Linked DNA regions of Homo sapiens: region 2 is linked to region 1. The links come from fine-mapping of genetic effects on gene expression. A gene starts in region 1. The other region holds a variant in brackets. All regions are shown on one strand. Distances are from middle to middle.

What was found. PIP is the estimated chance that this variant, and not a neighbour inherited with it, causes the effect.
Region 2: its variant is the best candidate, but not a certain one, in a credible set for the expression of LINC01098 in prefrontal cortex (CommonMind, PIP 0.88).

Annotation. Positions count from the first base shown.
Region 1 is chr4:177,726,995-177,731,284 of GRCh38, reverse strand. It overlaps LINC01098 (long intergenic non-protein coding RNA 1098), which reads right to left and starts at 2,528. Exons shown (of 6, transcript NR_028342.1): 1 at 2,268-2,528. RefSeq lists an enhancer at 2,202-3,401.
Region 2 is chr4:178,232,347-178,236,636 of GRCh38, reverse strand. No RefSeq gene overlaps it. Among named protein-coding and RNA genes, the nearest start is that of LINC01099, 330 kb to the right of the region's middle. The variant G/T (reference allele first, on the strand shown) is at 2,149.

The DNA of each region.
Region 1 (4,290 bases):
AACAACACAACTGCCCATCATTAAATGGATTAACAAATTTTAGTATATACCTATCATGGAAGACTGCTTAATAGTGAGAAATATTGAACTATTGAAACACAAGAGCATGTATGAATTGCAAAATAATTATGCTAACTGAAAGAAGCCATACTTCGTGGCTTGATTTATGCAAATGTTGAGAAAACACAACTAATCTATAGAGAAAGAAGCAGATCAGTGGTAGCCCTGGACATGGGTGGGGGAAGAAAAGATATAAGAAAGGGGCACGGGAAATCTTTGGGGATTATGGATGTACTCACTCTTGATTATGGTGATGGTTTTATGGGTGTATACACGTATCAAATCTTATCACTTTATATGCCTTAAGTACATGCAGCTTATTTTATGTCAGTTATATTTTATAACTAATGAAAATACATAAACTCATAGGCCATTGTTTAAGATATTTGTTAAAATTTGTAACATACTGAAGATGAACAGTAGGAAGGGATGCAAATACCAATGACCAATATTCTCTCTAGTTATATTAGATAAAATAAATATTTTATCAGTTTCATTAGGAGCTAAAAAACAGAAAAACAAATCTACACCTTTGAAAGGGATTACATGTTTGAGTCTAAGTTAGTATTTTGTTTGATTTTCAAATTGAAGGTAAAACAAAACGGGCTTTTGGAAATATCCAAAATTGTTTAAACTTATTAAGTGACCACGAAGGTTCGATGACAATGCATACAATCGGGAGAAAGGAGATGTTAGTGGGGTGAAAAAGGATCTGCAATTATAATAATCTAAAATTTTGAGTATTTTCCAAAAGTTATATTTACAAGCCATGAACTCTATAAATATATGGCAATCAAATTCAGTGACTTTGAAAGAACCGAGGGAACTTGTTTGGATCCAAGAGGATCTAGAGTCTAAAAAATTGATTGAATCTTGCATAGAATTTTTTCAAACAAGAAATTTGGAGTTTAAAGAAATTGGATTTATTGTCTACAATTATAACTGATAGTAACTACTGGCAGAAGCAAGCTACAACCCATTCCCTTTATCCAATGCCATTTGCAGTGTATTAACAGTTCAGCGGACGTTAAAGAATCTGTTAAAAGCTCAAAGGCAGGGAGAAGAATCCGTTGATCCTAGAGCTCTCAAAGAATGACAACTTGGTAAAGCTACTCACCAAATAGCAAATAAAATGAGATGACATATGAAGTTTAGGTTTTGGACATTTTTGGTTCTGGGAGTACCAGAGGAAGAGTAAACTCACTCATTTGCTCTCCTGCTAGTAACTGCACACCTGTTTTCTTTGACAATTTATCTCTTCTCTCCTAATTATCTGTGTAATTTGGCTGGAACTGACGCAACTCTCTGGCATCAAGCATGGTGCTAGACTTGGCAATGGGATTAGCATATTCTCTTAGCTTTTTGTTGTTGTTTTGGGTTGACAACCTGGCTCAGAACCAAGGGCCAATCATCAGAATCACGTTGTATTAACTCTAGTCACTCTTATCAGAATTTTTGGGTAAGAAGGCTTCACACCCCTTTCCCACTGTGGCAGATAAACTATGCAACCAAATCTGAGCCGCTAGTAATATTCCTTGACTTTTTTTTTTTTTTTTTTAGATGGAGTCTTGCTCTGTCACCAGGCTGGAGTGCAGTGGTGCCATCTCAGCTCACTGCAGCCTCCACCTCCCTAGTTCAAGCTATTCTCCTGCCTCAGCCTCCCGAGTAGCTGGGATTACAGGCACTCACAACCACACCCAGCTAATTTATGTATTTTTAGTAGAGACAGGATTTCACCATGTTGGCCAGGATGGTCTTGATCTCCTGACCTCGTGATCCGCCTGCCTCGGCCTCCCAAAGTGCCGGGATTACAGGCGTGAGCCACCACTCGTGGCCGTAATATTCCTTGACTTTATAGAGGGAGTCCATCTACAGAGGGAGAAAATAAACCTAAACTACAGAGGAAATACTAGAAATGGAGAGAAAACGCACCCTTATGAAAATATTTGAGTCTCCTAAATTTATCCAACTTGATCTGAGTTTCTGACATTAACAACCAAAATAATAGACTAAAACAAAGTGTTTATAATATTTTCAAACGTTGTATTAAGCTTCACATCTAATATTTTATTTCCCAAATCGCCTAGAATAAGGATGGGAGTTATATTTACTAAATATTCTACTACTTAGAGATCCGAGTTTCAAGAAAAGAACGAATTATACTTTAAAAGGCAGATGTCAATTAAGTCCACTTCATCTTGACATACTTTAATTAGAAATCTTCGGCTCGTGATGACGTAAGGGAAATTTCTGAGTTTGAAGAGTGCTCATGAGAGCATCTGTTAGGTCTAGGGTGAGGTTCCAGCCCATGCTGAGGTCCGAGGGGAGTGGGTGGATGAACGCCAGATAGCTTCAAGAACACTCACGGGCCATAGGCAGGTGAATACGGTTTCTTCAGCAGCTTACTTCCATTAGCTCTCTCACACTCTGCTCTGTCTCGGCTGCTTGAGCCGGCCATTTCCACGCACAGCTGCGCGGCCAGCTCTCCCTTTTCTTCCGGGTCAGAAGCTTAACTCTTTCCTGGTTCCTGGCTTCCCCCTGCCCGCCTTCAAGACGGACAGCTTTGGCTCGCTCTCTCGTTCTCTGGGCACCAGCGCCATGTTGAGCCATGTTATGCCAAGCCGAGCCAAGCCACGCCCAAGAGCCCCTGCACAGCATCAGCAGGGCAGTTATACCTTTTACAAACAATAGGGGCATAGAGCCAAGTATGAGCTTACAGAAACAGGTTATATAACAAGTAGAGGTGTGTGCCTGTGCACCAGTCCCGCTGAGTCATGCAGGCCGGGATGTCTGCCTCGGCCCATTCCTTGACCAAAGCACATCCGTGTAGCTTACAGCATTCACAGCCTCAGCTGAAAGCTCTGGTTTCTAGCTTCCTTTAAAAAAAAAAAAAAATACTGGGAGTTTTCTTATACAAGTCTCCTAAATGTTTTGTGGTGTATAAGCCAAGCTTCTAGGTAGCTTATCTACCATATTACTAGAAACAGTTCTATGTTCAGCTTTTTACATTTTCTTTGATAATCACATAGATATTTTTAACTCTTAAATTTCCTTTAAGTTGAATATGGTTATTTCAAGTGACTATTATTGCCTGGTAAAAGTTATAGTACATAATACAAAGCTAAACAGTGATTATTGTAACTATTGGCGATTATGAATGGTATGGGGATTTGTCCCAGTGAGATTGTGGCACTTGCTGAATGTACCAAAACACATCATGCCATAACATTATGAATGTTATTTTATTCAACTCAAAAATAAAATATAAGCTCTGGATACAAGTGACTATGGAAAGTGGAATAAAAAACGAAATTCTCTGAACATTCTGGATATATTTGCCTTCTCTTTCCAATTGCCAAAATAAGTCTCGTCTAATCAGTTAATGATAAATTGATCCCTCATTGTCTGTTGGCACTGAGAGCATTCTCCTAAGTATAAGCTAGTATCTCCTTGAAATATGTTCATCACCACAATTAAAATGTAAAATAGACTCACTTTTTAAATGAGGATAATCACCGCCACTTTCACTATACTACCCTGTCCATATCAAGAATATTGCTACTTTTGAGTTATCACTCCCAGATGTTCCAAACGAAGTTTGCTGCAGAGAAAAATTATGAAAAATTCAATCATAGACCTAATTTCTTAAGAAAAATAACAGATTATAGATAACAATTGAATTAGGCCATTAGCAGCTAATAGAGTGATGGTAGAATCAGATAATCTACATTAGTAATAGACAAAAATCATCAACTGAAATCAGGGACGGCAGGATTGATAAGTGACACAGTGTGTGTGTGATTCTGGAGTATGCACAGCGTAGGACTTGGTCAAACAAACAAATGAAAACAGAGGAAGAGAGGTAACCATGAAGGAAAGAATCTTCATAAGGCCTGTATCTCTATAATAACAAGAGGCGTTCTGTCAAGGACACCTCGCAATGAAGAATTATGTCCGTTCTACCAGCAGTCAGAACTATTAGAACTTTTAACCTGGCTTAGATGTTTTAAACATTAAATTTTCACAAGGAAGCCTGAAAATTAAAAACAGATCTGTATTCACCTAGTCCCAGACAGCAGTATTCTCTTCTATTTTCTGAAGGGTTTGTCCCAGTGAGATTTTGGCACTTGCTGAAATCTGCCACTCACTGAAAACTGCTGCTAAAATATATATAAAGCAAGCACTGAAATCTGCCACTAAAATATGTATAGAATCTATAGATTGCTGTAA
Region 2 (4,290 bases), 510 kb before region 1:
CACCTCAGGAACCTGTGATGACTGCGTTAACTGCACAGATTGTTTTAACAACATGAAATCTGGGAACCTTGAAAAAAGAACATGATAACAGCGACGTTCAGGGAACAAGGGAGATAACCATTAGGTCTGGCTGCCTGAGAGCCGGGTGGAACAGAGCCATATTTCTCTTCTTTCAAAAGCAAATAGGAGAAATATCGCTGAATTCTTTTTCTCAGCGAGAAACAGCCCTGAGAAAGAGAATGCGTTCCTAGGGGTAGGTCTCTGAAATGGCCACTCTGGGAATGTCTGTCTTTTATGGTTGTAGATAAGCGATGAAATAAGCCCTGGTCTCCCATAGCGCTCCCAGGACTATTAGGATGAGGAAATTCCTGCCTAATAAATTTTGGTCAGACCAGTTGTCCGCTCTCAAACCCTGTCTCCTGATAAGATGTTATCAATGACAATGCGTGCACGAAACTTCATTAGCAATTTTAATTTCGCCCTGGTCCTGTGATCTCGCCCTGCCTCTATTTGCCTTGTAATATTTTACTACTTTGTGAAGCATGTGATCTCTATGACCCACACCCTATTTGTACACTCTCTCCCCTTTTGAAAATCACTAATAAAAACTTGCTGATTTTGTGGCTTGGGGGGCATCATGGAACCTGCTGACATATGATGTCTCCCCCAGATACCCAGCTTTAAAATTTCTCTCTTTTGTACTCTTTTCCATTATTTCTCAGACAGGCTGACACTTAGGGAAATAGAAAAGAACTTACGTGAAATAATGTTGAATTATCAGGGGCGGGTTTCCCAATAATCTCATAAACAGAACCAATGACAAAAAGCACATCATTATCTCAATAGATGCAGAAAAGGCTTTTGATAAAATTCAACATTCCTTCATGTTAGAAACTCTCAATATACTAGGAATTGATGGAACATATCTCAAAATAATAAGAGCTATTTATGACAAACACACAACCAACATCATACTGAATGGGCAAAAGCTGGAAGCATTCCCTCTGAAAACTAACACAAGACAAGGATGCTCCTTCTTACCAGTCCTATTCAACCTAGTATTGGAAGTTCTGGCCAGGGCAATCAGGAAAGAGAAAGAAATAAAGCATATTCAAATAGGAAGAGAGAAAGTCTAACTGTCTCTGTTTGTAGATGACAAGATTCTATATTTAGAAAACCCCATCGTGTCAGCCCCAAAACTCCTTAAGCTGTAAGCAATTTCAGCAACCTCTCAGGATACAAAACCAATGTGCAAAAATCATAAGCATTCCTATACACCAACAAAAGACAAGCAAAGAGCCAAATCATGAATGAATTCCCATTCACAATTGCTACAGAGAGAAAAAAATATGTAGGAATACAGCTTACAAGGGATGTGAAGGACCTCTTCAAGGAGAACTACAAGCCACTTCTCAAGGAAACAAGATACGACACAAACAAATGGAAAAACATTTCATTCTCATGGAAAGGAAGAATCAGTAACATGAAAATGGTCATGCTGCCCAAAGTAATTTATAGATTCAATGCAATTCCTATCAAACTACCATTGATATTCTGCACAGAATTAGAAAAACCTGCTTTAAATTTCATACAGAACCAAAAAAGACAACCCTAAGCAAAAGAACAAAGCTGGAGGCATCATACTACTTGACTTCAAACTATACTACAAGGCTACAGTAACCAAACAGCATGGTACTGGTACCAAAACAGATACATAGGCCAATGGACCAGAACAGAGACCTCAGAAATAATACCATACATCTATAAACATCTGATCTTTGACAAAGCTGACAAAAACATGCAATGGGGAAAGGATTTCCTATTTAATAAATGGTACTGGGAAAACTGGCAAGCCATATGCAGAAAACAGAAACTGGACCCCTTCCTTACACCTTATACAAAAATTAACTCAAGGTGGATTAAAGACATAAATGTAAAACCTCAAACTATAAAAATCCTAGAAGAAAATCTATGCAGTACCATTCAGAACATACAGAATATGGGCATACAGAACATTCAGAATATGGGCACATATTTCATGACAAAAATGCCAAAAGCTATTTCAACAATAGCAAACTAGACAAATGGAATCTAATTAAAGAGCTTCTGCACAGAAAAAAAATAAAAAACCATCATCAGAGTGAACAC[G/T]CAAACTACAGAATGGGAGAAAATGTTTGCAATCTACCCATCTGATGAAGGTCTAATATCCAGAATCTACAAGGTACTTAAACAAATTTTTTATAAGAAAGAATCAAACAACCCCATCAAAAAGTAGGCTAAGAATATGAACAGACACTTCTCAAAAGAAGACATTTATGTGGCCAAGAAACATATGAAAAAAATCTCAACATCATTAGTCATTATAGAAATGCAAATCAAAACCACAATGAGATACCATCTCATTCTAGTCAGAATGGCAATCATTAAAAAGTCAAGAAAAAATAGATGCTGAGGAGGCTGTTGAGAAATGGGAATGTTTTTACACTGTTGGTGGGAATATAAATTAATTCAACCATTGTGGAAGACAGTGTGGCAATTCCTCAAAGATTTAGAACCAGAAATACCAATTCACCTAGCAATCCCATTACTAGGTATATACTCAAAGAAATGTAAATCATTCTACCACAAAGACACATGCACATGTATATTTATTGCAGAACTGTTTGCAATAGCAAAGACTTGGAACCAACCAAAATGATTGGTTTATCCAGTGATAGACTGGATAAAGAACATGTGGTACATATACACCATGGAATATTATGCAGCCATAAAAAGATCATGTCCTTTGCAGAAACATGGGTGAAGCTGGAAACCATCATTCTCAGCAAATTAACACAGGAGCAGAAAACCAAACACTGCATGTTCTCACTCACAGGTGGAATTTCAACCATGAGAACACATGGACACAAGGAGGGGAACATCACACATCGGGGCCTGTGGTGGAGGGAGGGGAGGGAGAGCATCAGGACAAATAGCTAATGCATGTGGGGCTTAAAACCTAGATAATGGGTAGTTAGGTGCAGCAAACCACCATGGCACACATATACCTATGTAACAAATGTGCACATTCTGTACATGTATTCCAGAACTTACAGTAAAATAAAACAAAATAAATTAATAAATAAATAAAAATAAAATGTCAAGGAAATAAGCCAAAATAAAATCAATAGCTATGTTAGGATAACAAAAGCCAAAGTTATTCACTTAGTATATACATTGGACCATAAAAAAAAGAAAAACTTGTGTGATCTATCCTTCAGACTGATTTGTTTCGTCATTTTTGTGTATTTTGTTTTTAATTAGTTTGAATGCAATTGGCAGTTTCATTTTTACCACCAATTCCCCCTGCCCCCTTCGCTTTTTTTTTCTTAACAGTTTAATTCTTAATCACCCTCTGCAGGCATGTGAAAGTGAAATCCTGCATTATTGTTTCTCTTATATAAAGTAGTCAAGATTACATGAGAAGTATTGACATTCTTTTTGTAATACCTCTAGTTGAACTTGCACACATTTTGGAACTAAATTGTGTAACTATCCTACTACTTTCGGTTGATAGTAATAGTATATCTACATAATTCTTAAATTCAACTTCATTATCACCTTGGTTCTTAGTATGGTTCTGTATTAATCAGAAATTTTATATTCTCAGTTGTGCTTTGCCTTTGTAGCTTAAACAATACACTATAGTGAGAACTACTTTTAGAGCAAGACTCACAAAGTCCATTTTTTAATGAACAGATAGAAATTCTTACATCAATTTGGATAAAATATATATTTCTAAGAATAATTTACATAAGAACATAAATAATTTAATATTACATCTAAAGCAAGAAATAAAATTGTTATTAATTATGTTAATGAAGCAAGCAAATGTTAAAACTAAGTTCCATCCTCTTATCTGCTGCATATAGATATGGTAGTAAAAAATGCATTTTCTTTGAATTATTTGAACCTTTGTAAATACAAAAAATGAAAAATACCTTAGAAAAGTGTTTAGCATCTGGTAGGTGAAAAATAATATGGCTTTCATAAAATCATAGCAGAAAACCACATAGGGTAAATGTGCCAATATTAAAAGACAATAACATTAGATGCTTATAACCTTAAAGTGCAGTAACAAAATTAACATTTTAATTGAACTCAGAGTTTATTTTGTAGAAAACCATATCAGTAATGCAGAAGAAAATTTTGAGAACATTTCCACAAAGCAGATTCAAAAGACAAGAGAAAAATAAAACACACAAAAATGATGAGACGTGAAAATCTTAAACTGGAAACACACAATGAGAA